Linked DNA regions of Homo sapiens: region 1 is linked to region 2. Evidence: fine-mapped expression QTL. A gene starts in region 2. The other region holds a variant in brackets. All regions are shown on one strand. Distances are between the middles of the regions.

Region 1 (14,949 bases), 61 kb after region 2:
ATTAAATCCACACAATCCACCCCCGCCTACCCCATAGACCCCTGTTTTTCAAAGGATATTGGTCCATAAAATCCAAATATCTGGGACTAGCTGACCTACTTACTTTCTTGGAAGCCATTAGGCAATGACACTCTCCTGTCCCAGAAGAACAGGCTACAACCCTACTCTGCAGGCTTTTCCACTATTTTCCTCTTGCTTCTGACGGGGAGTGGTAACCTTTTCCTAACGTGTGCCTTCTCTGCGTGGTGCCTCTTCTACTCCTTGCAAGAGAACAAATTTGCCTCTTCCTCCTCTGGGCTGCCCAAGCACCTTGTTTGTACTTTGCTTAGCACTTGCCATGATAAAAGACAATTATTTGAATGAGCCTTCTTTCTCACTAAGTTGTGAGGTTTCTGACAGCTTATCTTTTTATTTTTTATTTTTTGTCATTACTAACCACAATGCCTGGTAAATATATATTTGCTGAATGAATAAGCAACCTAAATCTCAGGTGGCAGTTAAAGGCTATTGTCTCATTTGTCTCTTCCAGTAGCAATAAACAGCTAATCTAATATATAATTTTTATTTTTATTTATTTATTTTTTTTGAGATGGAGTCTCGCTCTGTTACCCAGGCTGGAGTGCAGTTGCGCAGTCTTGGCTCACTGCAACCTCCGCCTCCTGTGTTCAAGCGATTCTTCTGCCACAGCCGAGTAGCTGGGATTACAGGTGTGCGCCACCACACCCAGCTAATTTTTGTATTTTTGGCAGAGATGGGGTTTCACCATATTGGCCAGGCTGGTCTCGAACTCCTGACCTCAGGCGATCCATCTGCCTTGGCCTCCCAAAGTGCCGGGATTACAGGCATGAACCCACTGCACCTGGCCTCTAATATATAATTTATGATGCCTGAATACTACGATAGAGTTCTTCTTTGGCTATCTCTTCTCCTGACATCATAATACTAGGAAACACACTGAGCCAGAAATCTGAAAACTGGGCTTTAGTTCCAAGCCACTTACTCTTTGGAGACTCAGTGTCCAAAGGAAAGGAATTAAGAGCAGGTTCTCACCACCATCTTCAACATGCTAGAGAAGAGAGGCTAGGAGAGGTTGCTCCTTAGAGGTGAGATGCTGACTATTCTCCAAGGAGTTTTGTTAAGTCATTTTGAACTTTGCTTGGCTTTTTTTTTTTTTTTTTGAGATGGAGTTTCACTCTTGTCACCCAGGCTGGAGTGCAGTGGCACAATCTCGGCTCACTGCAACCTCCGCCTCCCAGGTTCAAGCAATTCTCCTGCCTCAGCCTCCCGAGTAGCTGGGATTACAGGCATGTACCACCACACCCAGCTAATTTTTTTGTATTATTAGTAGAGACAGGGTTTCACCATGTTGGCCAGGCTGGTCTTGAACTCCTGACCTCAAGTGATCCGCCCACCTTGGCCTCCCAAAGTGCTGGGATTACAGGTGTGAGTCACTGTGCCCGGCCTTCTTGTTTGGCTTTTGGTAACCTATTTATTCATTCATTCTTCCAAAAAGTTTTATTGCCAAATAGACAGCACCATTCACTTGCATCCCTCAAAAAGATCCACGCAGGTTTTGGAGTCAGGCATCTCTAAGTATGATGTTGGCATGAGTCTTGGCTCTGTCTTCCAGGAGCCATGTAATATGGGGCAAGTTCCCATTTTAGGTTTCAATTTTTCTCACCAGCCGAAAGCATATAATAATCCTTCTGTCACAGTTACTGAGAAATGAGAACATGTATATAATGTATCTAGCCAGTGTTCAGTACATGGTCATTTCCCATCACCTTCCCTTAATGCAGAACCCAGCCAACTTAAACATGATAAACTCATTCATGGTCAGGTACGGTGGTGCATGCCTGTAACCCTAGCACTTTGGGAGGCTGAGGCTGGCAGATGGCTTGAGCCCAGGAGTTCGAGACCAGCCTGGGCAACATGGTGAAACACTGTCTCTACAAAAACTACAAAAATTAGCTGGGTGTGGTGGCACATGCCTGTGGTCCCAGCTCCTCAGGAGGCTGAAATGGGTGAATCACTTGAGCCTGGCAAGGCTGCAGTGAGCCATGATCACACGACTGCACTCCATCCTGGGTGACAGAGCAAGGCGAGACCCTGTCTCAAAACAAACTATGTTATTGGAGACTTAGAAGTCTTCACTTTCCCATCCCCAGCCCCACCTTCATGTCTACGTTGTAAAAGAGGCTGCAGCAAGAGGGCAATACCAATATCTATTCCAGGGGAAGAATTTGGTAATGATGGACTTTCAGGAATAAAGGTTTGGGGGAAAAGCTGAGATTTCATCACTTACAAGTGAGCCGCTGTAGAAGCCAGTCAAATGTATTGCGTGGTAAGCGAGCTTTGACTTTACTAAATCAGAAGGGGATGGGGAACATGTGTGGGTGTTGGAGTGATTAGAGATTCAGTGTGTTTGTGTCCTGCTGCTTTGATTCCCTTATTAAAGAGAATGAAAATAAACCCAGCAGCTGCTGGTTAACTCTTTCTGGGTATAGGCCTACAATCAGCAGAAATGCTCCAAGTCATCAAGCATTCCTGACATCCTGGGTGGAATTATCTAATCTAAGGCTTTTGCAAGGGAGGAATTTGAGTCCCCACCTAGCCTTTTCTCCTAGAGTTCTGGAAGAGATTATCACACGGTCTCAAAAACTAGAGCTCTAACCTGTTTTTGGTTTATGTGTTTGTTCATTTGTTAGTTCATTCATTTGCCTAGATCAAAAGAGCATTCTCGAGGCCAGGGGCTGTGGGTCGCGCCTGTAATCCCAGCACTTTGGGAGGCTGAGGCAGGCAGATCACTTGAGGCCAGGAGTTCGAGACCGCCTGGCCAACATGGTGAAAGCCCGTCTCCACTAAAATTACAAAAATTAGCCAGGCATGGTGGCGGGCACCTATAATCCTAGCTACTTGGGAGGCTGAGGCAGGAGAATTGCTTGAACCCAGGAGGCAGAGGCTGCAGTGAGCCGAGGTCATACCACTGCACTCCAGCCTGGGCGACAGAGTGAGACTGTCTCAAAAAAAAAAAAAAAAAAAGCATTCTGAATCATGGATTTAAGATAATCATAATAAACAACATGGTCTAGCTTCTAGGTTCTCAGAGCAGAAGAAAGATAAGGCCAACAGTTAGAAGACAGAGGTAAATGCAGTTTAGGAAAGGCATTTAGGAGGAGGCGAAAGAGCAAGTCCCGGAGCGGGCTGGTGGTTGGAGAGATGGTGGGGCCACCATTGTTGTGCACGCTTATTACAAGCCAGGCATTGTGCTGCCTTCTGCACACATTATCTCTGTGTCATCACAACCACCCTGCAAGGCAGGTCCAGTCTCATCCCATTTCTTGAAAAGAAGGCTCAGGGACATTAAGGACCAGACATGATCTCCCCCACCTGAAAAGTGGCAGAGCCAGAAGTCAAACGTTCATCCATCCATCTGGTCGTGGTATCCTCAATCTCTGCCTCCAGAAGCGTGTGATCTTGCTAAATCATAGCTAATGCCGATATAGCCAAAAATGGACAAATAAAGGCACCAAAGTAGAAGTGGTATAGGGGGTGGAAGCTGCCCCATAAGGGCCTGCTGGGGAGAATTGGGGAGGGGGACGGGGCATGTAGAATTGGTAGGCAATGGGAACACAGAAAGCCCATGCCGCATACCACTTCCCTAGAGCTTTTGACTCTCATTCCATAAGGAGAGGAACCCCAGGTGGGTAGGCTTTGTCCTGGGGGCAGGGTGGTGGGGGTGGAGATGGTAGAGCAGCCATGGGAACATAAAGGCATATACCCTGGATTTTCAGGGATAATCATAATTTTCAAATCATCCCTTTTCATTGACAGGCCATAGAGGAAACATTGGTCTTGACTCTTGTTTCAGAAAATAAGGTCCCAGCAAAGTCAATGGGTTAGGAAGTGTGGGAGCCCTGTTCTCTGATGACTGTTGGAAACGAGATTCATGGAAGGAAGCCTGGGCTCTCCTGACTCTGTGCTTCAGTGTCCAGGCAGAATCTCCTCAGTTAATTCTCCAGAAGAGAGCCCCCACCCTTCCTCTTTATACACTCTGGCAAGGGAGCTCCTAATCTTGCAGTCCCAGGCTCCCAAAATCTCTGTAGCAGACATTTTTGGGGGTCCCCCATCTCCTGTCCAAACCTTGGAATTCGTAATCATTTTAGTGCTTAGGGAAAGAGAGGAGAGGTAATCAGACCCTATTCCAAATGCATCTCTTTCCTTCCATTTTTCTTTCGTCACTCTCCAGCCACGTGGGTCCCATCACAAGTCATCAATAACAAGATGGTCACCCCTGAGTCCAAGGGAGGCTCACAAGACTCAGGCAGAGTGAAGCTGAGCACAGGGCAGGATGTGATAAGCAGGCCTGAACGGAGCCGAGGAAGGCCGGGCACTGGCAGCCTTTAAGTGCCTTGCAAGGACATGTGCCGGGAGTGCGTGTATGCCTCTAAGTCTCCTGAGCATGCCCCCGGGCACTTCAGCCTGGCCTTGGCCTCATTACTACCTCATGCTGTGTAACGGGCACAGGTGCATGTGGAAAAAGAATCAAGGTTTTCTGATAGAACCAATTTCCTTTACTGGAGTTTGCAAATAACCTGCTGTCCTTGGGCCTTTGCATTTCCATCTCTAAAATGGGAATACTAATCCTGCCTTCAATGTCCCACTGACTACATACACCCCTCACAAAGATACTGTGAGGAAGAGTGAGTAATAGCAAAGAATCTTAAGGCTAAAAGAACCCCAGGGTTCATTTTTTTCTATCCCTTTACTTCCAGCCAAGTTCTCTACACAATAATACCCATACCAAAGAAAGGAATGTGCCGGGCATAAAGACCATCTAGAAAGGACAGCCCGCAGCTTCCCCTTGGTTTGAAGCCAAGTTGGAAGTTGTCATGCCAGCTGCATTTTTTTTTTTTTTTTTACTGCATTGCTGTTCATCATCAAGTAATTCAGGGCACTAGGGGGAAAAAACTTCTCTGAAAATGAGGGAGTGATTTGCAGCATCTGTTATTTCCTTTTTAATTGAATCTGTTCTTCTCAGATACCAGGAGCAAGTGCCAAAGTCAGCAGTAGAATTCAGCTGTGTACATTTTGAACGAGCTGGAAGATAAGTTTATGAGCACTATACGGATGCAGATTGTACAGAAACCAGATGGCCATATTGTCCTCAAAGTCCTCTGGAGGGCGGTAGCTGACATGAAGCTCCAGCATGAGGAGGTGGGAGGTCTGCTGACTTTCCTAAGGAGCTGCTTGGGTAGATACACACCCAGGGTGGACTTGGATGCTTCCTTGGTGGGGGACGCACGTCACACGAGAGGGGCTTTCTCAGCAGCCCAAATGGACCCAGGGGCTCTCATGCTTGCTTCCATCCTGGCCCTGAGTAATAGGCATAAACCAGGGTCCTGTTGGTGCTCGCTCTTTTTCCCTCACATTCTGCATCCTGTTGAGCACCAGGAGGGTCACCAAGGGAAGCTAGGGAATTTCTACCCCAGAAAGTACCCAACAGCCCTGACTAGCTGGGAGGCAAGAGGAGAACTCCATGGGTTTCACAGGTACCTTCCTACCTGTGGTGTTGCACAAACAAAAGCAAACGCCCTGAAGTATATAGAACTCCACTACCAAGTGCAGCTTCTTAACAGCAGTTACATTTGCAGGAGAAGAGGGGATTTTGCTCCTGGATGAATGAGGAATAGTGGTACAGGGATGTACATCTCTGAGCTGAGCCCCAGGAAGCTGACTGGACATTCATCTTTCTTCTCTGGGTGGTTTTTTTTTTTTTTTTTTTTTTTTTTTTTTGAGATGGATCTCGCTCTGTCGCCCAGGCTGGAGTGCAGTGGTGCGATCTCGGCTCACTGCAAGCTCCGCCTCCTGGGTTCACGCCATTCTCCTGCCTCAGCCTCCCGAGTAGCTGGGACTACAGGCACCCGCCACCACGCCCAGCTAATTTTTTGTATTTTTAGTAGAGACGGGGTTTCACCATGTTAGCCAGGATGGTCTTGATCTCCTGACCTTGTGATCCGCCCACTTCGGCCTCCCAAAGTACTGGGATTACAGGCGTGAGCCACTGCACCCGGCCCAGTGTTCCTCATTTTCACACAGAGGAGTTGAGGCTCACATGGGATGAAGCTCTCTTTAGGGCACACAGGAGGTGCACTGTAGATCCCAAGAATAGCCACACGACGAAGAGAGGCTTTGGTTTGGGAAGTAAAAAGCCATGTGGTCAGCTGACTCTGCGGCATCAGACGAATGCATGTGAAATCATGGATCTCACCCACCTGAGGAAGGTGGGAAGTTACATCAACTGTGATAATAGATCTGTAGATGCAAAAGGCCTTGGAAGGAATATCCTATGGAAATAGAAGATATATTACAGCTTTAGCCTCTTAGGAGTGTGTGTGATTTGTCCAAAAAGATAAGCTTTATGTTAGCAATTATAAAGAAACTATAGGCATGTTGCATTTTTCTGAGAGCCATGGCCAAATTCTTGGTAAGAGTTTTTTTGAAAATCATAGTATTTTATTTTGGGGGCCCTAAAGTTTATTTATCTCAGCCACTCCCAAATCTGGCCACATGTCAGTCATCTCCAGCCTGGGCGACAAAGCGAGACTCCATCTCAAAAAAAAAAAAAAAAATGAATGTTCAGGGTTATTCCTGAAAATTCTGATCCAGTAGGTCTTGGGGAACATGGGAATCTGTATTTTTACTGAACTCCACCAGTAACTCAGATATGCAGCTGGCTTTGTGACCTCATCCAGTGCAGCCTTCCATCAGATGTTTATATCCAGGTTAGAAACCACCTCTGGATAACTTAAGCAGGAAACGAGTTTAGGTGGCTCACAGAACTATCAGGGGCATGGATAATCAGACTCTGGAAACAGGCAGGAGTCAAGGACACTGCTGCAGACACTTGCCGTGACCCCTCCACTCTTGGTCACCTTAGGTTCCAAAGTCTTTAATGGGAGTAGTTGATTGCCTTCGTCTAAGTCATATGCTGGGCATCATCTGTCAGGAAGCTGAAAGACAGAACATCTGCCCCATCAGTTTCTTTAGTGGGGCTCCCCCTTCGCTCATATTGGGATTCCCCTAAATAAGAAGAGTGCTTAGATACTGGACAGCCAAAACAACAATTGCTGTCTACAGTGTTGCCACAGTCATCAAGACTGCGCTTGAACTCCTCCATTCTTGGGGAGCTCACTACCTTACAAGGCCATTCAATTCTCTCTAAATCGGCCTTCCTGAAATTGCTACCTATTGGCCCTTAGGGTCAAGCCTTTCTCAAAATCTCATATTTAGGGGACACTGAAGAAGAACACCTTCTGAACTTCCTCTTCTGCTTTTACTTTAAAACCTGAAGCAAGTGAGAGGCAGACCTCTTTTTCCAGGTATTTGGCCCAGAG[G/A]CAGCGGGGTAAAATGGAGAGAGTGAAGGATTGAACTCAGTCCTGGCTCTGACTCCTGGTTCTGCTGCTTCACGGTCGTGTGACTTTGGACAGATTGCTTCACAACTTGTGACCCTCAGTTTCCTCATCAGTAAAACTGAAGATACTGATGGTGAGAATTAAGCCTGAAATGTGCTTCCTCTTTCCATCTTCGCACAGAGTGAAGCAATGTCAGCTGATGATGGGAAGGCAGGGTAGGATGGTGTTGAAGAACAGAGGTGTCTGGCAAGCCTGTGTCTGAGCCCGGGATGCACTCATTATCTGCATAACCTTGTACAAAGTATTTACCTTCTCCTTCTCTCATCTGTAAAGTGAGTGCAATTTTAGTACCCATGTCATAGAGTTGTTCTGAAGACTAAATGAAATAAATTTTTTGTTGTTGTTCTTGTTGTTTTTTGAGATGGAGTCTCGCTCTGTCGCCCGGGCTGGAGTGCAGTGGCGTGATCTCGGCTCACTGCAAGCTCCGCCTCCCGGGTTCACGCCATTCTCCTGCCTCAGCCTCCCGCGTAGCTGGGACTACAGGCGCCCACTACCACACCCGGCTAATTTTTTGTATTTTTAGTAGAGACGGGGTTTCACCGTGTTAGCCAGGATGGTCTCGATCTCCTGACCTCGTGATCCGCCCGCCTCGGCCTCCCAAAGTGCTGGGATTACAGGCATGAGCCACTGCGCCCAGCCGAGATAAATGTTAAATGCTGACACAGTGCTTAGCATTTAAATAACACTTAAGATGTCATGTCTTATTATTGATTGGCGGTTGAGGTGGGACTTCATGGTCTGGACAGACCTTGCATTGCTGCCATCAAAAGTTGCCTCCTTCAAAACAGTTGTAGCGCTGCTGTCAGTGTCTGTTAAGAATGAGGTGGTGCATATGCTACGGCAGAGACAATCCAGAAAGCTTCTGAATCAATAGAACCTCTGAGGCTGTTGTAGCTTTGGCATAGCTATCATCTTTTAGGGCCATTTACCCAATGTGTCACCAAAGAGACACAGCAGAAACTGCTGGAGAAACACGGATCCGAAAGCCCAGTAATGACGGCTCCTCTCCTCTTTCTATTCTCTCCACCCATCTGTTCCCCTACTTCCTTCAAAGCACACATAGACACACACCCCTTTTGTCTCTCTCAAAACAGGGGATAATTAAAAAACCAAAATCCAAACATCCAGCAGAAGTTTATGCTTGAGTCTCAGAACACAACATATGGCTTCCCAGCCATTGCCAGGTTCTGTAACCACAAAGAGAGAGGTCTCCAGCCTCCACCGTGGTCCCCTGGCTTTGCCACTATTTGCTGACAGAGGCAGCACTCCTCCGCCAAGGACTAGAGGGTCATGGTGTTCAACCCCTTGAATTGTAGTCAAAATTACATTTTCCTGTCATTTGAAAATGCTCCAGAAACAGAGGAGATTCAAGTGCTTCCTTTCTTTGTCCCTGTTTCAGCTTTCTCTTTCCAGTATTGGATTAGAGGCAGCAGGGACTGTGGAGAGAGGACGAGGAGGTGGAATTTCCTGATCGTGATGCAGTGTCCCTCTGTGGGGGCAGAAAAACTGCACGGTAGTAGCAGCAAGCTGGGGCTGGTGAGAACTGCGAGAGGAAGGGGGATCTCAGCTGCAGAGGAGAGCTCTGAGACAGGGTCTCACTCTGTTGCCCAGACTGGAGTGCAGTGGCTCAATCCATGACTCACTGCGGCCCCAGCCTCCTGAGCTCATGTGGTCCTTCTGCCTCAACCTCCCAGCTTGCTGGGACTACAGGCATGTAGCACAATGCCCAGCTAATTTTTTTGTATTTTTAGTAGAGACGGTGTTTTGCCATGTTGCCCAGGCTGGGTTATTTTTTATTTCTATTGCCCAAGTCACATGGAGGAATTGTGTCAGATTGTAGTAAGAAGAGGATGATTCTACCTTATCCTCCCTCCACAAAACACACACATATGCCGTGAGTTAGCTTTTCATCTCTGCCCCTCTAATATCCCTTGTGTGGCCTCTTGCATGGGGAATCGCTGTCCACCCAGAGACTTGGGACATCAGGATGTCCTTTCACCTCCTGAGGCAAGGTTGCCTGTGGGAGACCTTGCTCAGAGCTTTCAGTCTGCCCCGCTCTGTAAGGAGGTTTGGGTTGCAGACATGTCCTTTCTCCACCTGAAGGCAGGTAATGCAACCACAATGTCACCCAGTTCTGTAAAATTCCTGTCTAAGGAGTCCAGTTCAGTTTTCTGAATCTTGAACAGCAGACCAGGCTAAAGAGGGGAGCCCCAGAAAGCTTTGCTGGAAGGAAGAGAAAGACAAAAGCCTTGCCTTTTCTCTCGGTAGAAGCTGTCGGTCATGGCTCTTCTAGCCTCACAATTTGGAGATGTTAGATGGAATCAGGATGATTATAGCCTCATCTCCCCTTCTCCCGTCCTGTCTAAGTAGTCACACAGATTGATGCCTTAATTTCCCATAGCACAGCCGAGGCCAAGGTGTAACAAACTGAACAAGACTTTACTAGCAGCTCAGGATCAGGACTATGCTTAGGACCAGCCCATTCTCAGGGGGTTCCCTCAAAGCTACCACTGTATGACAGAGATCCCTGTCCTCTCGCCCCCAGAAAAGTCCTCAAGTTTTGCCAGACTCCTGGGAGTACTAGCATAAGAAAGCAAGGCCCAGAGACATGGAGATTCTCTCTTCTTCTCCCACCTAAGGCCTTCCTTCCAAATCCTCATTGCCTGTCCTAAGAACCACCACTTCCTGGACTAACCGATAGCGGAAGGGCCAGGTTCCCTCTCTGCCCCTGAGGAAGTGATGCTACCCCACAGTCCGAGGAGATAATCACATCAGAATATAGCAGACCTGCAGTAGTGTGAGAGATTTCCTGGCAGTAAGAAGGGGTAGGGAGGAGGATGTCCTTGTCACACCCAGGCTGCCTGGATCCTGTGGCCTCCACCACATGCATTAGGCGTGGCTCTGGCCACAGATCAGTAGAGGGAGAAGCACTGCACACAGCACGGATGCTTGTAAATGTCAATTGCCCTCAGTGGCTATAATTAGTTTCTCTGGTACCCTGTGTTCAGCAAAGTGGGGAAACAGCCCCTTAGAAAGTGTGTATTTTCCACCGCTGTACCTCGTGATATCACCACAGGTGCCTTCTGGCTGACCCCAAGTTTCTCGTTGTTCTCCAGGAACTGCTGTGACTGTTGGTGGCAGTTCTATAACTCTGAGAAGTCACAGGGGGCCCGGTCAACCACCAGCAAATGACTTCCTGTTCCCTTCCCCTACTGTCCCCCACCCCCCATGACACTAGGCCAGTCCTTGCCTGGTGAGAATAAATTCAACTGTACGTGGATTTCTCACCCAAGTTTCTTTCTTTCTTTTTTTTTTTTTCGGACAAGTCTCACTCTGTCACCAGTCTCACTCTGTCACCCAGACTGGAGTGCAGTGGCGCCATCTTGGCTCACCGTAACCTTCGCCTCCTGGGTTCAAGAAATTTTCCTGCCTTAGTCTCCCAAGTAGCTGGGATTACAGGCACCCACTACCAAGTCTGGCTAATTTTTGTATTTTTAGTAGTAGAGACGGGGTTTCACCATGTTGGCCAGGCAGGCCTCGAGCTCCTAACCTCAAGTGATCCTCCCGCCTTGGCCTCCCAAAGCGCTGGGATTATAGGTGTGAGCCACCATGCCCGGCCTCACCCAAGTTTTAAACACGTCCAAGAAAGTGGATGCATACCTACCTAGTCTAATGTTTAAAATACATTTCGGATGAAGCATTTCTTGTTCTAAAACTACTTAACATAGAGCCCTGGCGCCTCAGATTCCTTGCAAGTCACTAAGTCAGTGCATGGCATTGGGTACTAGTGTTATATTATTGGGCAGACTTGTGAAAGGATGTGGAGTCTCAGACTCCAGGTTTGAATCTGCCATCTCCAGCCGTGTGACCTTGGGCAAGTTATTGAAGCTTTGAACACTGGCTTCTTGATCCATCAAATGGGATATTTAGGGGGGAAATGGGATAGTAGGGATTGTGTGAGGATTAAGTATGATGACATATGTAAAAGCAAATTAACACTGCACCCAGCAGGTCCTCAATTATAGTACTTTTTATATTCATAGTATGGAATAAAGAAAAGTCTTTTTGATTGGAGCCCCAAAAAAGGGATATTAGAGGGTCAGAAATGAAAAGCTAACTCATAGCGCATGTGTGTGTTTTGTGGCGGGAGGGATAAGGTAGAATCATCCTCTTCTTACTCCAATCTGACACAATTCCTCCACGTGACTTGGGCAACAGAAATAAAGAATAACCCAGCCTGGGCAACATGGTGAAACACCGTCTCACCTAAAAATACAAAAAATTAGCTGGGCATTTTGCTACATGCCTGTAGTCCCAGAAACCTGGGAGGTTGAGGCAGGAGGACCACCAGAGCTCAGGAGGCTGGGGCTGCAGTGAGCCATGATTGATCCACTGCACTCCAGCCTGGGCGACAGATTGAGACCGTCTCTCAAAAATAAATAAAAAACACTTACTGAGTATTACCATGTGATAGCTGCTGTTCGAACAATCTAAGCATGATTACGTTAGATTGGTGATGGGTATTCTTACACTGCCAATTTACAGATGGATTAACTAACACGCTGAGGTTAAAAGTAACTTGTCTAAGACCACGCGGCTAATAATTGGGAGTGCCCGGAAGTCAATTCCCTTCTCTAAGCTTCAATTTCCTCATCAGATGATTGGTTTAGATACCCATGTCCACCAGTGCTCAAAATTTTACATCTGTGCTAAATTTAACCAGGAAATTTGGGAGTTATGTTAGTGATGTTTGCAATGGAAAAGAAATGGTTTAGGAAACTTAACATGGCTTGAAACTCTTTAAAAGTCTTTCTTACCATTTTTCTTGTCCCTTTCTTTCATTACTCTCTCCTTGTCTTTTCCCCTTCGTCCTCCTTAAAATAAGTCTCTGAGAGGGAAAAACCTGTGGTTCACATCATGAGTTCATCAGAACCAGGCATCTATGTATCCCATCACATAGGTCAAGGAGCCTCCCAGCAAAGGTAGTAATAATCAGCCTTAGTAGCTGGAAAGATCATTTCATCTGTTTCTCTTCTTGCAAAACCTAAAGTGTTAAATCAGATTCTTGAACAGTAACACTTCCCAAACAAGTTGTCTCTACTGGCTGTTTCCACTTCCTATCCTCCTCTTTTCTCTTAAACTTATTTCAATCAGGCTTCTGTCACACTGCCCCCCAAAGCTGCTGTCATCAAGGTCACTAATGGCCACAGTAGTGCCATATATTGTGAGCAATTCCATCCTCCATCAGCAGCATTGGATGCAGGCGATCAGTCCTCTCTCGATGCTTCCTTAAAGACCCTTGGCTTCTAGGAGTTTCTTCTCTCTTAGTCCTCCTACTGCAGTGCCTGCTTCTGCTCCAACTCCTTGGCTGGCTTCCTCATCTCCTCACCTGTAAATATTGGAGAGCCCTCAGCTGAAAACCATGGACCCCTTCTCTCCTTTGTCTAAACTCACCCCCATAGTAGTCTCCAAACTCCTGGCTTTATGTACTATCCATATGCTGACAACTCCTGCACTTACATCCCCCACCCAGTCCTCTCTCCCATTTTCCAGACTCCGTACTCAGCATCTCCTATGGATGTCAAATAGGCATCTCAAACATGGGTCCTCCCACAGTCTTGTCATCTCCAAGCAGGATAACTCTTTCTTCCAGATGTTCATTCTAATGCCTTGGAGTCACCCTTAGCGCCTCACTTTTTCCATCCAGTCCATCAGTGAATCTGTCAGCTTCGCCGCTTCCACAGATCCAAATCCCTGGCATTCTCTCTTGCTTGTATTATTGCAATTGCCTCCAAACTGGTCTCCCTGTTTTGGCTTTTGCTTTCTTGTAGTCTCTTCTCATCAGAATAGTTGGAGATCCTTTCAAAGTGTAAGGCAGATGGAATCACTCCACTGCTCAAAATGCCCCAACGTTCTCTGTGTTACAAAGTTAAATCTAAAGCCTTCCTGTCTCTAGGGTGTTCCCTTGCTACCTCTCTGAATCTGTTTCCTAGCATGTACCTCCTTGCCCATTCAGCTGAAGCCACATGGTCTATTCTTTGTTCCTTGAATACACTACACACGCCATTGCCTGGGGCCTTTGTGCTTGCTCTTCCAGGAAGGCTCTTCACACAGCTATCCACAGAGCTCTCCCTCCCTGACTCATTCATTACCTTTATCTAATCTTTCCATGCAAAATAGGAATCCCTTCCCACCCTTCCCTGCCTTATTTTTTCCAAAACGCTTACTATAACTGTCCTCTCCCCTAGAATATAAACTGCATGAGGTCAAAAATCTTTGTATTTTTTTTTTCTCTGCTATATCCCCAAGGCTAGAAAAATGTCTGACACATAGTAGATGTTAAAAGAATGAATGACTCGGCCAGGCGCGGTGGCTCACGCCTGTAATCCCAGCACTTTGGGAGGCCGAGGTGGGCAGATCACAAGGTCAGGAGATGGAGACCATCCCGGCTCACACGGTGAAACCCCGTCTCTACCAAAAATACAAAAAATTAGCCAGGCGTGGTGGCGTGTGCCTGTAGTCCCAGCTACTCTGGAGGCTGAGTCAGGAGAATCGCTTGAACCCGGTGGTGGAGGTTTGCAGTGAGCCAAGATCGCGGCACTGCACTCCAGTCTGGGCAACAGAGCAAGACTGTGTCTCAAAAAAAAAAAAAAAAAAAAAAAAGAATGAATGACTCTAGGTCAGTTTCTACAACAGATGCTGACTGACCAGCCAAGCTCTTTATGGAATTCTGTTCACTTAGAGTAAGCAAATCTTCCACAGCACTACGGGGGGGTGGGAGTGGGAATGTGGTGGCTGGGAGGACCACTAAATCTTTTTTGCTATAAATTGCTTTCCCGTATGATGATATTTACCACACCAGGATTTCAGCTCTAGCTCAAAGCTTGCTTAAGGATATTTGTCAGAGTGAGCTTGCCTGAGAGTTCAGTAATTCTCAAGATGGTTTCCCTGAAAGAATCCTTGTTCAAACACCATCCCTTTAAAAGTCCTTAATCCAGACTGCCTGTTCTGCAGACATTCTCAGATGCATTATTTAAAGTTATTTCCAGTGGTGCGTGGGTGGGAGGTGGGAGCTACATTTGTTACTTAGTGGTTTCCAAAAGCCTTCCAGGATCTTTCCTTTTTACCCTAGTGAGGTTGCTCACTTTTAACCCTTCTTTTCCAGGTCTCCTAACATAACTTCTTAGGCTTAGTAGCTCATTGGCAAATCCGTTAATGCATTTCACTGCTATTGGGTGAAATTTAGAAACATGCTACTCTGTTCTTTGGGGATGCCTCTTAGCAGAGAGAGGCTTCTTTTTCTTAAGGAGTCAAAGAATGACATTCATAGAAGACACTGTTTATTGGATGAACCAGTTACACAGACTTTTTGATTCTTGGGAGAATGTTCATATCTGTGGTATAATGCATTAGTCATCATACTTTTGAAGAATAAAGACATCACATGGTATTTGCCCTCTCCCAGGGCCCTGCA
Region 2 (14,949 bases):
GTATTTTTGATAGAGACGGGGTTTCACCGTGTTGGCCAGGCTGGTCTCGAACTTCTGACCTCAAGCGATCTGGCCACCTCAGCCTCCCAAAGTGCTGGGATTACAGGCATGAGTGACCATGCCTGGTCCACTGCAATTTTTAAATGCAATTTGCAATCAATAAATTTCCAGGTCACTGTTCCTCATCCCAGGCATTCCTGAGACATGATGAGGGTTACTAGCAATACAGTGTGACTCCAGAGGACAGTTCAACCTTCATCCTGAGAGAATTTCTATTTTAGATGCCTTTCAGAGGCTGAAGGAGTGAGTTAAACCTTCACTTGGCTTCACCTGAAACATTCATCTTCGCTGCTTTAAGGAACTTGCCCTTTCCTCCTAAGAGCACCAAGTCATAAGACATTTCTAGGCCGGGAGCGGTGGCTCACGCCTGTAATCCCAACACTTTGGAAGGCCGAGGCGGGTGGATCACGAGGTCAGGAGATTGAGACCATCCTGGCTAACATGGTGAAACCCCGTCCCTACTAAAAATATAAAAAAATTAGCCGGGCGTGGTGGCGGGCGCCTGTAGTCCCAGCTACTAGGGAGGCTGAGGCAGGAGAATGGCGTGAACTCAGGAGGCGGAGCTTGCAGTGAGCCGAGATCGCACCACTGCACTCCAGCCTGGGCGACAGAGTGAGACTCTGTCTCAAAAAAATAAAATAAAATAAAATAAAAAGACATTTCTAGACCCTGCTCAAGAAAGAAACAAGAACATTAATGTATAGCTTTAATTTCAGAAAATCTGCATTTCAACACTGATTTACCATCTTTCATCACTCTATTATCATGGGTTAGTCACATAATTTTTCTGAGCCTCAAATTTTTGTTGTTGTTCTTCCAAAGAAAAATGTATTGAAGCAACTTTCCCATGTTGTTTTGTTTTCTTAGGTGAATAATAATTAAACAAGGTATTATGCCTGAACGTGCTAGGAAATTGTAAAGAGCTATGTAAACACTATTGCCAAAGAGGAACAAGAGTGTGCCATTTTAGGTGGGCTGAAGTGGCACAGACAATCGAAGGCCAGGAGCAGTCTCAGTCCCCAGCTCTTCAATTAAAGCCTTGAGCTAAGAGGTGGATTAGGGCTTGCTTTTCTTCCCCTCTCTTAGTTTCCCTTAACGGGAGCTGCTAATAGAGGAGCAGGCCCTAAGGAAGCTCCTAGGAGGCTCCGTCCAGGCTCACCTTGCACACTCAGCCCCAGAGGCACCCACACACAGTCTGGTGGGAGGGCAATGACTAATGTAAAAAGTCAGAGCCAAGAAACTGGAAGAACTGTGCCTCTTGTCATCTACAGATGTGTTTTCCAAACCACACTTCCCATGGAACATTAGAGATTGGCTAAAATATTTCTCTTGCTGGTTCAGGCCAGCGCATTCTAGGAGGGTCATTTTCCCTTGATGCTCCCCTCCTCAAACTTCCGGTTCTCCTTGCTCCACTTCCTGTGTGTGCCCCTTAGACAGACCCTTCAGGGACTGCCTTTAAGGAGAATCCCCTTGAGGTTACTCACAGCACTCTGTGCACCAGACATGAGCTGGGGATGAAGGTCTGTCTAATTACCAACAAAATCAAGGGAGGGAGAAGAAAGATTATGACCAGGGCTCTGAGCCAGTCCAGCCAAGGTGCGGCTATGGGGTGGAAGAAAATTTGTTGGCTTTGGTCTCAAAACCAGGGAGAAGAGAAAATGCAACTGTACTTGTGCTATCAAGATGCCTCTCAGCTGAAATGCAATTCAAGTCCATTCAATAGACATTTATTAAGCCCCTACTGAGGGCACAGCTAAAGAAAGATGCATGGAGCCTTATGGAGCTCCCATTCTACCCTGGAGAGAAGCACTTAAGCAAATGAAATGCCCTTCATTGTGCTTGGTGCTATGATAAAGGGGTCACAGAGGACAGGATATCCACTTCCTCATGAAATCAGCCCATTCCCTTTTGAATATGTCTTATAATTAGGAAGTGTCTTTTCTCTGTTCCTTCTCCCTCTACCCTCCTAGCCCTTCCTTCCTCTCCTCCTCCTTCCATTTTTCTATTTCCCTTTCCTCTTCTTCCTTCTGCCCTGTCCCTCTTTTCTCCTCCCCTCCCAGGTCCTGCCAGCTCTGAGAACCTGAGGTCCTGCTTCCCACCCTCTCTGCCCCATCTATGCAATGTGGGCAAAGAAGGGAAGTGAGGTCAGGCAAGGCCTCTTAAAGGAGGCCAGAAGAAGGAAGAATTCCAGGCAGAGGGAACAGCATAAATTGAGAAGTATGGCCTTTCCCAAAAGGCTTGGGCAAGTATGATTTTCTTACTCATTTCTTGTCCCTGCCCATAATCTATCTCTTCCCCTTAACCTAAGTCATGAGGCTGAAAAAGCTTCTCCTGAACCTTGAAGCCCATTCAGCCTCAAAATTAGCTGCTCTAAGGAATACTAGTGTGGTAGGTAAAATAATGGCCACCTGGAGATAGCAAGTCCTAATCAGGGTTTTTGGAGATGTAATGATATTAAGGATCTTAGGCCAGCTGTGGTGGCTCACACTTGTAATCCCAGAAGTTTGGGAGGCCGAGGCAGGTGGATCACCTGAGGTCAGAAGTTCGAGACCAGCCTGGTCAACATGACAAAACCCGGTCTCTACTAAAAATACAAAAAAAATTAGATGGGCGTGGTGGTGCATGCCTGTAATTCCAGCTACCTGGGAGGCTGAGGCAGGAGACTTGCTGAAATCCGGGAGGCGGAGGTTGCAGTGAGCCAAGATTGCACCATTGCACTCTAACATGGGTGACAAGAGCGAAATGCCATCTAAAAAAAAAAAAAGAAAAAGAAATTGAGAATCTTGAGATGGAGAGACTATTCTAGATTATCTAAGTGGCCTTAATTGCGACCACAACTGTCCTTATAAAGAAAAGGTAAAAAGAGATGTCAGAGAGATGCACACAGAGGTGATGTGAAGACAGAACAAGAAGACTTGAAGATGCTGCCTTAAAGACTGGGGGAGGCCAGGCGCGGTGGCTCACGCCTGTAATCCCAGCACTTGGGAAGGCTGAGGCAGGCAGATCACGAGGTCAGGAGTTCGAGACCAGCCTGGCCAACATGGAGAAATCCCATCTCTACTAAAAATACAAAAATTAGCCAGGCATGGTGGCGTGTGCCTGTAATCCCAGCTACTCGGGAGGCTGAGGCGGGAGAATCGCTTGAACCTGGGAGGCGGAGGTTGCAGTGAGCTGAGATCGCATCACTGCACTCTGGCCTCGGCAACACAGCAAGAATCTGTCTCGGAAAAAAATATTAAATTATATTTAAAAAGACTAGGAGGATGTAGTGACAAGCCACAGAACTCCAGCAGGCACCAGAAACTGGAAGAGGCAAGAAATACATTCCCTTCCAGAGCTTCCAGAGGGAGCGCAGCCCTGCTGACACCTGAGGTTAGCCCAGGGATTCTGATTTAGAGCTTCTGGCCTCCAGAATTGTGAAATTAACATTTCTAATTGTTGTAAGCCACCCAGTTTGTGGTCATCGGTTACAGTTACCACAGGAAACTTGTACAATCAGATTCCTCCAGAGATGAAGCATCTCTTTTGCCTAGGAGTCTTTTGGAAGGAAGGAGAGAGGAGAGAAAAGAGAAAGAGGGTGACCTGTCCCTTCCTTGCTTAGATGCTGGCCAACACTGGTGGTCTCCAATCCAGAGAGCCATACTTGTACAAAGACTTGTCCTGGATTTTTTTTGTTTGATTGGGGTTTGTTTGTTTGTTTGTTTTCAGACAGAGTCTTGCTCTGTCTCCCAGGCTGGAGTGCAGTGGCACAATCTTGGCTCACTGCAACCTCCACCTCCCAGGTTCAAGCAATTCTCCTGCCTCAGCCTCCTGAGTAGCTGGGACTACAGGCATGTGCCACCAAACCCAGCTAGTTTTTGTATTTTTAGTAGACACGAGGTTTCAGCATGTTGGCCAGGCTGGTCTCTATCTCCTGACGTCGTGATCCTCCCACCTTGGCCTCCCAAAGTGCTGGGATTACAGATGTGAGCCCTGGTCTGTTTTTTTTTTTTTAATTATTTATTTATTATATTTTTTTGAGACGGAGTCTCCTTCTGTCACCTAGGCTGGAGTGCAATAGTGCGATCTCAGCTCACTGCAACTTCCACCTCCCCGGTCCAAGCACTTCTTCTGCCTCAGTTTCCCAAGTAGCTGGGACTACAGGCATGCACCACCATGACCAGCTAATTTTTGTATTTTAGTAGAGATGGGGTTTCACCAGGTTGGCCAGGCTGGTCTCAAACTCCTGACCTCAGGTGATCTGCCCACCCCAGCCTCCCAAAATGCTGGGATTACAGGCATGAGCCACTGTGTCCGATCTATTTTGTGTGTGTGTGTGTGTGTGTGTGTGTGTGTGTGTGTGTGTGTGTGTGATGGAGTTTTGCTCTTGTTGACCAGGCTGGAGTGCAATGCCGTGATCTCGCCTCACTGCAACCTCTCCCTCCCTGGTTCAAGCGATTCACCTGCCTCAGCCTCCTGAGTAACTGGGATTATAGGCATGCACCACCATGCCCGGCTAATTTTGTGTTTTCAGTAGAGCCGGGGTTTCTCCATGTTGGTCAGTCTGGTCTCGAACTCGCGACCTCAGGTGATCCGACCCCCTCAGCCTCCCAAAGTTCTGGGATTACAGGTGTGAGCCACTGCGCCTGGCCAGTGCCAGGTCTATTATTATTATTTTTAATAAAGATAGGGTCTCATTATGTTGCCCAGGCTGGTCTCAAACTCCTGGGCTCCAGGGATCCTCCTGCTTTGATTTCCCAAAGTGATGGGATTAGAGGCATGAGTCACCACATCTAGCCTAAATTTACATTTAAAAACGTCTATTCATCTGGGAGAGGTGGTTCACCTGCCTTTAATCCCAGCATCTTGGGAGGCTGAGAGGAAGGCAGAAGGATCACTTGAGGCCAGGAGGTAGAGACCAGCCTGGGCAATATAGCAAGACCTTGTCTCTACCCAAAACAAAACAAGTCTATTCAAAATGAGATCTTGGGACCAGGTGTGGTGGCTCATGCCTATAATCCCAGCACTTTGAAGGGTTGAGGCAGGAGAATCAGTTGAGTCCAGGAGTCCAAGACCAGCCTGGGCAACACAGCAAGACCTCATCTCTCCAAAAAAAAAAAAAGAAGCTGGGCATGGTGGGACACACCTGTAGTCCCAGTTACTCAAGAGGTTGAGGTGGGAGGATAGTTTGAGCCCAAGTTGAGACCACTGCACTCCAGCTTGGGTGACAGAGCAAGACCCTGAAAAACACAAAGCAAAACAAACAAAACAAAAGAAAAAAAAAGGAAAGAAAAAAACACTTAAAAAAATTAGATCTTGGCCATGCCCTGTGGCTCATGCCTATAATCCCAGCACTTTGGGAGGCTGAGGCGGGCAGATCACTTGAGGTTGGGAGTTCGAGACCAGCCTGGCCAACATGGTGAAACCCTGTCTCTACTAAAAATGCAATAATTAGCTGGGCGTGATGGCACATGCTTGTAATCCCAGCTACTTGGGAGGCTGAGGCAGGAGAATTGCTTGAACCCGGGAGGCAGAGATTGCAATGAGCTGAGATCGTGACACTACACTCCAGCCTGGGTGACAGGGAGAGACTCCGTTTCAAAACAAACAAACAAAACAAAAAACAAAAAAACTCCCAACATATAAAGCTGATAGACTTACAATGAAAGAAAAGAGGATACCACACTACCCTCTTAATCCTCAGTTGGGTGACCCCAACCCCTGTCCCTCAAAGTTCCTGGGGGTCCCTTGACAAAATCCTAGCGATCCCCAGGCTAAGCTAATCCCCTCATTTGGCAAGCAAGGAAGTTGAGGCCCAGAGAGGGGCAGCACATGGTTTCAAAATCTTCTGACCACGAAGGATCCCCTTAAAGTCTAGGGGTGAAAGTCATTCCCAGCAGTTCCAAAGCTGCCTTTGTTTGGCAAGGCAACACCCCAGCCTTTAGGATTTGAAACAGTGGGCAGACTTTACTGCCTGTTTTTGTTGTTGTTGTTATTTGTTTGTTTTTTTGTTTTGTTTTGTTTTGGGACGGAGTCTCGCTCGGTTGCCTAGGATGGAGTGCAGTGGCGGGCGTGACCTCAGCTCACTGCAGCCTCTGCCTCCCAGGTTCAAGCCATTCTCTGTCTCAGCCTCCCGAGTAGCTGGGATTACAAGCACCTGCCACCACACCTGGCTAATTTGTTTGTATGTTTAGTAGAGACAGGGTTTCACCATCTTGGCCAGGTTGGTCTTGAACTCCTGACCTCGCGATGCACCCGCCTCGGTCTCCCGAAGTGCTGGGATTACAGGCATGAGCCACCGCGCCAGGCCTTGTTTGTTTTTTTTAACAGGGTCTCACTTTGTCACTCAGGCTGGAGTGCAATGGTGCCATCTCAGCTTGGCTCACTGCAACCTCGACCTCCCAAGTTCAAGCAATCCTCCTGCCTCAGCCCTCCAAGCAGCTGGGACTACAGGCACACACCACCATGCTGGGCTAATTTTTATATTTTTAATTAAGATGGGGTTCACCATTTTGCCCAGGTTGGTCTCAAACTCCTGAGCTCAAGCAATCTGCCCACCTGCCTTAGCCTCCCAAAGTACTAGAATTACAGACCTACTGCATGTTCTTATTGTTATTACTTGACCGTTCCTCAAGGACAGAGTGAAGGAGAAGGAGAAGATATAGGACATGCTTCAGAAATTGTGAGTGCAGCCAACTGGGTCCATCCTGGGTCTCCCTCTGGCCATCTGAGAGGATGTACCATAGCAAAAATATGGCAGGGGCCAATGAGGGAGGGTTAAACATGCTCACATGAACAAAGAGAGCTTTGTGGTCCAGAGTGGATTCTGACATGACCACACACGGAGACATGTCAACTTGCTTTCCCTTCTGAGGGAGGAACTTCATGCTGATGTGTCAGCTCTGTCCCTGTGCAAGACCCCTACTCCCATCTCACTTCTTTTGGCCACTGTAAGATATACTGCCAGATGAATAGTCATTTCTCTTCTCTCAATTTATTTATTTGTTTAGAGATGGAGTCTTGCTCTGTCACCAGGCTGGAGTGCAATGGCATGATCTCAGCTCACTGCAACCTCCGCCTTCCAGGTTCAAGCGATTCTCCTGCCTTAGCCTCCGGAGTGGCTGGGACTACAGTCACATGCCACCATGCCCAGCTAATTTTTGTATTTTTAGTAGAGATTGGGTTTCACCTTGTTGGCCAGGATGGTCTCGATCTCTTGACCTTGTGATTCGCCCACCTCAGCCTCCCAAAGTGCTGGGATTACAGGGGTGAGCCACCGCACCCAGCCCCCCTCTTCTCTCTTTGTAATAGAACAGTGTAGACATTTATGAAGCTTTTCCTAGCTTTTCAACGTCAACACAATTAAAGCACAATGCATCTGAATTGCCAGCCCCCCAACCCAGTGCAGAACAAATGGCAGGAGTCCTAAATAAAACAGGGGTTTGCACTGAGCTGAAGACAAGTGAGGAAGCCAAGCTGGGATTTCTGTAAAAGTGTCCCAGACAAAAACAGTTTGCATCTCAGGTGCCTAGTTTTTCATAGTGCTTTTTCCAGTCTACCTAAAACTATTTTTATATGCATCATTTCCTTTATCTTACAGTTTGCCTAAAGGCAGGGAGAAAGACAATTAATTCAATTTTTCTGGAGAAACAGAGATCCAGCAATTCTATGTCAAGGGGCATAGATGGAGTCAAAAAACTATCTTAAAGGCTGGTGTCCTTTTATCATCATAACAATGGTCGTTAACTAGTTGTTTGGCCAAATGTTAAGAGTTCAAATCTTGGCTCTGCCATTTACTAGCCATGTGACCTTGGACAAGATACTTGACCTCTGGCTCAGCACCTTCATTTGTAAAGTAGTTCCTAGTTCATAGTCTTGTCAAGGAATTGTTTGAGTCACATATGTAAGAAGCAAAGAACAACACCAGCATATAGTAAGTACTCAATAAATTTGAGTTATCATTTATGTAGCGCTTTATGGTTTACAAAGCGCTTTCACATACATTATTATCTCTTGACTAAGATCCAGATCATTTGACTTTCAGCCCAGGCATTTGGAAACAATTCAGAATACTGGATAAAATCCAGCATGTTTTACCGAACACATCCAAGGAGGCTAATACTAGGTATGGTGTTGCCAGCCCAGTCTTGTCTTTTTGCTCCATGTCCTGGAAGAGCATTCTGCAAGGTCTCCAGGATATCCCCTTTGCTCTGGAAGCAGCTACTACCCAGGAAGCATTAATTTTCCCTCATCCTTTGTACAGCAGGAGGCAGAATTAATACACATTGTTGCTTAAGCTCCAGCTGTCTTATCTCCCTGCTTCCAAACACCACTGGCTATTCTTTAGGAAACCAATTCCGGGCTCAGGGAGTTACACTGTATCATTTCCCCTGGTAAAACCTTCACAGGCCTTATAAAGCAACCTCAAAAAGCCACTCCATGGGTGCTGGTCACCATCCCTCCCCCATATTCCAACCAGGGACAGGCCCGGACTGACATTTCTGGAAAACCCAGTGTGTGCAAGGTTAGGTTACCACGGTCCATACCAATGAGGAAATTAGGCTGTAGAGAGAAGTAACTTGTCTAAGGCACCGCAGTGGATACGAGTGCTGTAGCTACGCACTTACCAGCTCTATGATCTTCCCCAACCTCTCTGAGCTGAGTTTTCTCATCTGTAAAACTGGGATAATGATTAAACACACTCCTAGGGTCAGTATAAAACTTCAGTGAGTTCATTCATTACGATTAGCACAATGACTGGCACATACAAGAGCCCAATAAATGTTAGGTTTTATTATTATTATTACCCAAAAAAGACTATCAGTTAGGGTGTACTCATTGCCTCTTTCATTATAGCAAGTGGGACCCTTGTCCCTGACTGAAGACAATGACTTTGTTTCCAAACGAAAGAGGGTTAGCATCCCCCAGCCAAATTCACCAGGTGGGGCATGGGGCATCAATATGGTTGTGGCTTCCACCATCTTTGCAGTGGGAGTAGTTTTGTCCAGCCTATGATACAATTCACTTATTATTGTGCAGTGGTGATTCGGTCCGTCTTTGAATCCTTTTATTGACAGGATATCCACTCCCTAATGAAATAAGCCCGTTCCCTTTTGAACACCTCTTATAATTAGGAAGTATGTTTTCTCTGTTCCTTCTTCCTCTACCCTCCTAGCCCTTCCTTCTTCTCCTCCTCCTTCCTCCTTTCTTTTTCCCTTCCCTCTTCTTTCTGCCCTGTCCCTCTTTTCTTGTCCCCTCCCAGGTCCTGCCACCTCTGAGAACCTGAGGTCCTTCTCCCCAACCCCTCTGCCCCACCGGGAAGGCACTATTCAGTCACTGACCATAACCTTGTAGAGCGCAGTAGGTCTTTAGTGCAGCCACTTGGCCGGCTGATTGGGAACTCAACTTCCGATGGTCCTAACAACCCTTTGGGTTTTGCAGGATCTTTGAGAAGCAAAACCTTTTACCTAGGCCTTACGGCTTGGCCTTCTGGTCCATTAGTATCATCCACCAGTTCACCCAATTTCCATTAATAACCGCATCTAGAATCACATGAAACTTGAGATGGGTTGATCTCCTGTCTTGAGGCCCAGCTGGGCGGGTATGCCAGCCAAGGAGAGGGCTGGGGCGCCGGGGGTGACTCTCGGGAGGTGAAGCACACAAGCAGCCCATAAGGTTGGGATCCTCCGTCTCCAAGTAGCGCGACTACAGCTCTTGCCCGCACGGAGCAGCCTCGGACAGCGCGGCCGCTTTAAGAGAGGGGCGGGGCCCGGGTACAGGCAAGTCAGGGCCAGCCCACAAGGCTCCTTTTCCTTTTTGATCCATTCAAAAATTACTCATTGCAAATTCCCGGACTGCTAGGCGAGGAGAGGGAAGGGGGCGGAGGAGACAGGGCTACTGCAGGCGCAGAGCTGGGGGCAGCCGGGGGCCCGAGTGGCTGAGGCTGGTCCCGCAGCGGCCGCTTGCCGGCGTTCTGGCTCCTGTGGCCTCACCAGGAAGCGTCAGAGTCCCGACACTGGGGAAGCTCGGAGCGCCGCCTCCGCTGCCGCCGCCTCCTGCCTGGCTCTGGGTCCCCGAGCCCCCTCCCCTGGCCCAGCCCGACTCCCTCCTCCTTCCCGAACCATCCGGCTCGGGCTCCTTCCCTGGCGATGGCTGGCCGCTGAGCCATGGCTCAGTACGGCCACCCCAGTCCGCTCGGCATGGCTGCGAGAGAGGAGCTGTACAGCAAAGTCACCCCCCGGAGGAACCGCCAACAGCGCCCCGGCACCATCAAGCATGGATCGGCGCTGGACGTGCTCCTCTCCATGGGGTTCCCCAGAGCCCGCGCGTAAGTGGCCGGGCTCGCAGCCCTCGGCGACCCCTCCCGCGCGCGCGGCCGGCCCTCGGCTTCGCTCCGGCTCGCCTCCCAGCGCCTGCGGGACAGGCAGCGCGCTCCCCGCTGCCCGAGACCTGTTGGGGGCGGGATGGGCGCGCTGGCAACCCGGGACTCGGCTCCGGGCGGGGGTGCGGGGGAAGACGCGGCGCGGGGGCGTTGGGCCAGGGCTCGCCGTGGGATGCCTAAAGCTGGGGGACGAGGGCGCGGGGTTCGAGTCCCGGGTATAGTGCTCAGCCTCCGCCCCAGCCGGGTGGAGCTCAGCGTTTCTCTCGCGCGCTCCCCTAGGTCTCCAGCGCCGAGCGCCTAGGGAGGCGGGGCCCTGCGGAGGACTCGGGCACCCTCTCCGTCTGGAATACTGGGCTGGTCTGGGATCCTCCGGTGTCTGGGAAAGGGCGGGAGACTGCGGGGCAGGGAGGCCGGCGCCCCCGTTGCAGCGGCTTCCAGCTCCGGATGTCGCTCTCGGGTTCGGTCTCCCCCTGGAGTAGGAGGAGCGGGAGCGTGGGTGTTCCTGCGTGTTCATTGATGGGGAGGATGGAATCAGAAGGAGAAGCGATCCCTCCAGGGGACCTGGGTTCTCGTCAGTGGTGACGGCAGCTCAGAAATCTGTGGGTGCCTGAGAGTAAGGAGGGGGAGCTGTTCTTCATCCTTCCTCTAGGAGAGTGGGGTAGGGGAGGGCAGGGAGAGCGCAGGTGGCTGCCCCTGGAGCCTGCTGGGGAGAGGCCTGTTTGCCAGCATAGGGTGGCGGCGGCCGGAGTCGTCTCAGGCCGGTCGGCTCAAGTCTCAGGGGCTGGAACTCTGCCTAAGAGGAAGCCAAGGCCCAGCGGCCAGGCCCTTCTCCCCTGGTTAATCCCTGCCGTGCAGATTTCTTAGGTGGGGACACAAGGCCTGGCGTCCGGACTGGGCGCAGCTTCTTTTCATCTTTGAATTACAGCACCTGAACAGGAGAGTTGGCCAAACTTAATCAGTGAGGGCCAAGTAAATGAAAGTCCTTTTTATTTTTTTCCCTTCTCACATTTTTTTTTCAGGTGATAACTTTATTTATGTATTTATTTTTCTGAGACGGAGTCTCGCTGTGTCGCCAGGCTAGAGTGCAGTGGCGCAATCTCTGTAACTTCCGCCTCCCAGGTTCAAGCGATTCTCCCACCTTAGCCTCCTGAGTAGCTGGGACCATAGACATGCGCCACCACACCGGGCTAATTTTTATATTTTTAGAAGAGATGGGGTTCTGCCATGTTGGCCAGGCTGGTCTCGAACTCCTGACCTCAGGTGATCCACCCACCTCGGTCTCCCAAAGTGCTGGGATTACAGGCAATAACTTTATGTCTCCCCTCCCTTATCTCTGGGCAAACCTTGTTTATTCTCTACTAACTTGGTTGTAATCTGTTAATCAAAGTAGACCCTTGAATTTGTTATTCTCCAGGCTGCTGGGACACGTTGGAGTGGCCTTAGAAGGCTGCAAAATGGACTGATGGTTTCTGCCTTCCACTGACGTCCCAATACGACTTCCTAATACTAGGGCTCCAGTTCCTGATACCAGAATTACAGGGAGAAAATGTGGGTTCTGCAGGGGTGTGTCAGGTGTGGACGCTTCAGGTGAAGTCGTCGGTGTGGATGATCAATGTGCACAGCTCTCCTTAAAAACTGGAGGTGGGGCTGGGTGTAACCCCAGCAGTTTGGGAGGCTGAGGCAGCCGGATCACTTGAGATCAGAAGTTTGAGACCAGCCTGGCCAACATGGTGAAACCCTGTCTTTACTAAAAATACAAAAATTAGCTGGGTGGGGTGGTGCATGCCTGTAATCCCAGCTACTTGGGAGGCTGAGATAAGAGAATCGCTTGAGCCCAGTAGGTGGAGGTTGTAGTGAGCCAAGATCGCACCACTGCACTCTAGCCTGGGTTACAGAGCGAGACTTCATCTCAAGAAAAAAAAAAAAAAAAAGCTGGAGGTGGGAGTGGGGAAGTCAGCTGGGGAATGCTGCAGAATTAGCATAGTCTCAGGCTACTGCCTTTTTTGAAATAAGGCCAGCATTAAAAACCTAAATTGCTTAATTAAGGGAAGAAATACTTAACTGAACTCCTCAGTCATATTTGAGATTCAAATTCAAATCAGCTTTAAAGGGACATCTTTTCTCCTGCTCTGAGTCCAGGAGGTCTTGACATGTCTTGACAGATTAGCATAAGGGTCATTTTTGGCTTGTTTAACCCCTGAGGTCTCCTAATAGCTAGCATGTATTGAATACTTACTCCATACTGTTCTAAGTACTTATATCTTTATTACCCATTTTATCCTCCTAGCAACTCAATGAGGAAGGTACCACATGCCCATTTTATGAATTGGGCAACTGAGGTTTAGAAGGGTTGCATAACTTGCTCAAGGTCACAACAGTAAGCAGTGAAGCTGGGATTCAAACCCAGGTATTCTATCTGCACAGCCCAGGCCTCACACCATCTAGGGCCAGTAGGGCCAGGATAGAAATGATTGAATGTGGGTAAAATGCTTAGAACAGTTCCTGGCACATAGTGAGCAATCGTGAAGTGTTAGTTACTGTATTAGCTTCCTGTGACTGCTGTAACAAATTGTCACAAACTGAGTGGCTTAGAACAGCAGAAATTTATTCTCTCACAATTGTAGAGACCAGGAGTTGAAAATCAGTATCGCTGGGCTGAAATCAAGGCATCAGCAGGGCCGTGCTCCCTCTGGAGGCTCTAGGGGAATCCACTCCCTGCCTCTCCTACCTTCTGTTGGGGGCTGGCATTCTTTGGCTTGTGGCTGCATCAATCCAATCACTGCGTTTGTGGTCAAATTGTCTTTGTTTTCTGTCTGTGTCCAATCTTCCTTGGCATGTCTCTTATAAGGATACATGTGGTTGTACTTAGGGCCCACTTGGATAATCCAGAGTAATCTCCCCATCTCAAGATCATTATCTGCAAAGTCCTTTAAAAAAAAATGTATAAGGCGGCATTCACAGCTTCTAGGGATTAGGATGTGGGTGTCTTTTGGGGGATCATTATTTAGCCTATCACAGCTATTATTATATTACTACTAGCACTGCCCCTCTTTACCAAAGAGGTAACAAGAGCAGGCCTGGAGAGAGGGAGGTTGGGTTTGCTGCTCTTTTTCTTAAATTCTCTGCCTGGAAGGGAGTGAAGGTCCTGGAGGTCACCTGATCTAGTTGGACTCCTTGCCCAGGCTTGCTTCCCTCCTCTACTTCAACCCAGAAAGGCTGATGTGGTCGGCCTTCCCCCCAGTAACTTAGACCAGTATGAAGAGGGGCCCTCGGAGGCTTCAGAGAACAGGCATTTAACTTCATTTTTGAGAGTTGAGAAGAAAGAGCAAGGGCATCGGGCTTAGCTCATCAGAAGCTTCTCTCTTGAGCTTTATGCCTGGAGGGCTGAGCATAATGAAAATCCAAAGCCCCAAAGAGCAGTGATGGTCTCCTGGGTCTAGAAGACTTGGATGTGATGCTTTAAGAAGGGGTAAGATGGTTGTCTCAAACCTGGCCCTTTTGACAGACTGACATTAGCCAGGGCTGACAGCTCTAGGCCCTTTTGACAGAGTGACAGCAGCCAGGGCTGACAGCTCTAGTTTCCCCTATGGGTGTAACTGGGTCTGGTGGTGTGCGGCACCAAGAAGGGGCACTCAGGCCAGGCTCTTGGTGGGCTGGCAGAGAGGGTTGAGGCCAGCAAGGCTGGATCCCACCCAGCCCGTGCTGGGCTGCACTGTGCTGTGGTCTTGCAAAAGTCACTTAGTCCCCTCAGGGCCATGCTGTTGCCCTCTGAGGGGAACGCAATTAATGACTGCATGCTTGTTAAGTGCTTGACAGAGCTAAGAGGACCAGAGGGCTGCAGGGCTGGCTCAAGCAGGGTGACCTCAGGGTGTGCTCTCTCTAGCTCATTACTCCCTGGAGCTGGGCTAGGTTTTTTCCATTCCACTATATGAACTTCAGTCCAACTTAGACACTGCTATAGGAGAATTTGCCTCATGGAGGACTGAGAAGTGGCGATTTCACGGTGTGTGTGTGCGTGTGCGCTCGTGTGCAAGTCCAAGTTAAGGAGGTGTTCGGGAGGCATCAGGAAGGAAACCTTTCAAAGGTCAAAATGGCCAATCGCTTCCTTTTTTCTATGCCCACTAGCACTTCCCTGTTTTAAGGGTTCTAAAAATAAGGGTCCAGCTTCCTTGAGGCTAGTGAGGTTGGTTGGAAGGAAAAGAAAGAATGTATTGGGGGCAAAGACCTGAGGAAGAGGAGACCTCACAGGCCAGGAGAGGGTCTGAGCCTAACACCGGAGAAGATGGGACAGGACTCAGATCAGAGCCATCACTTTGCACAGCCAGATCCGATGTCAGAGCACTGTCATCCCCCTGCTGACCTCTGGTTTCTGGGGAGACAGGCTCTCATCTCTTCTGTAGCTTGGGGCTGATGCTGGGCCTTGGAGCAAGTCACTGAATAATTGAATTGGAGGAATCCTTGCTGATACAACCCTGATGAGTTTTTTTATTATTTTTATTTTTTGAGGCTGCTGGTGGCTAGAACTTTGT

What was found.
Region 1: its variant is fine-mapped to the expression of UBASH3B in whole blood (TOPMed, PIP 0.92).

The regions. Positions count from the first base shown.
Region 1 is chr11:122,707,131-122,722,079 of GRCh38, forward strand. The region is part of intron 1 of UBASH3B (ubiquitin associated and SH3 domain containing B); the gene reads left to right. Among named protein-coding and RNA genes, the nearest start is that of UBASH3B, 59 kb to the left of the region's middle. The variant G/A (reference allele first, on the strand shown) is at 7,398.
Region 2 is chr11:122,645,845-122,660,793 of GRCh38, forward strand. It overlaps UBASH3B (ubiquitin associated and SH3 domain containing B), which reads left to right and starts at 9,878. Exons shown (of 14, transcript NM_032873.5): 1 at 9,878-10,366. The coding sequence starts at 10,206. RefSeq lists an enhancer at 9,783-10,284 and a silencer at 10,488-10,537.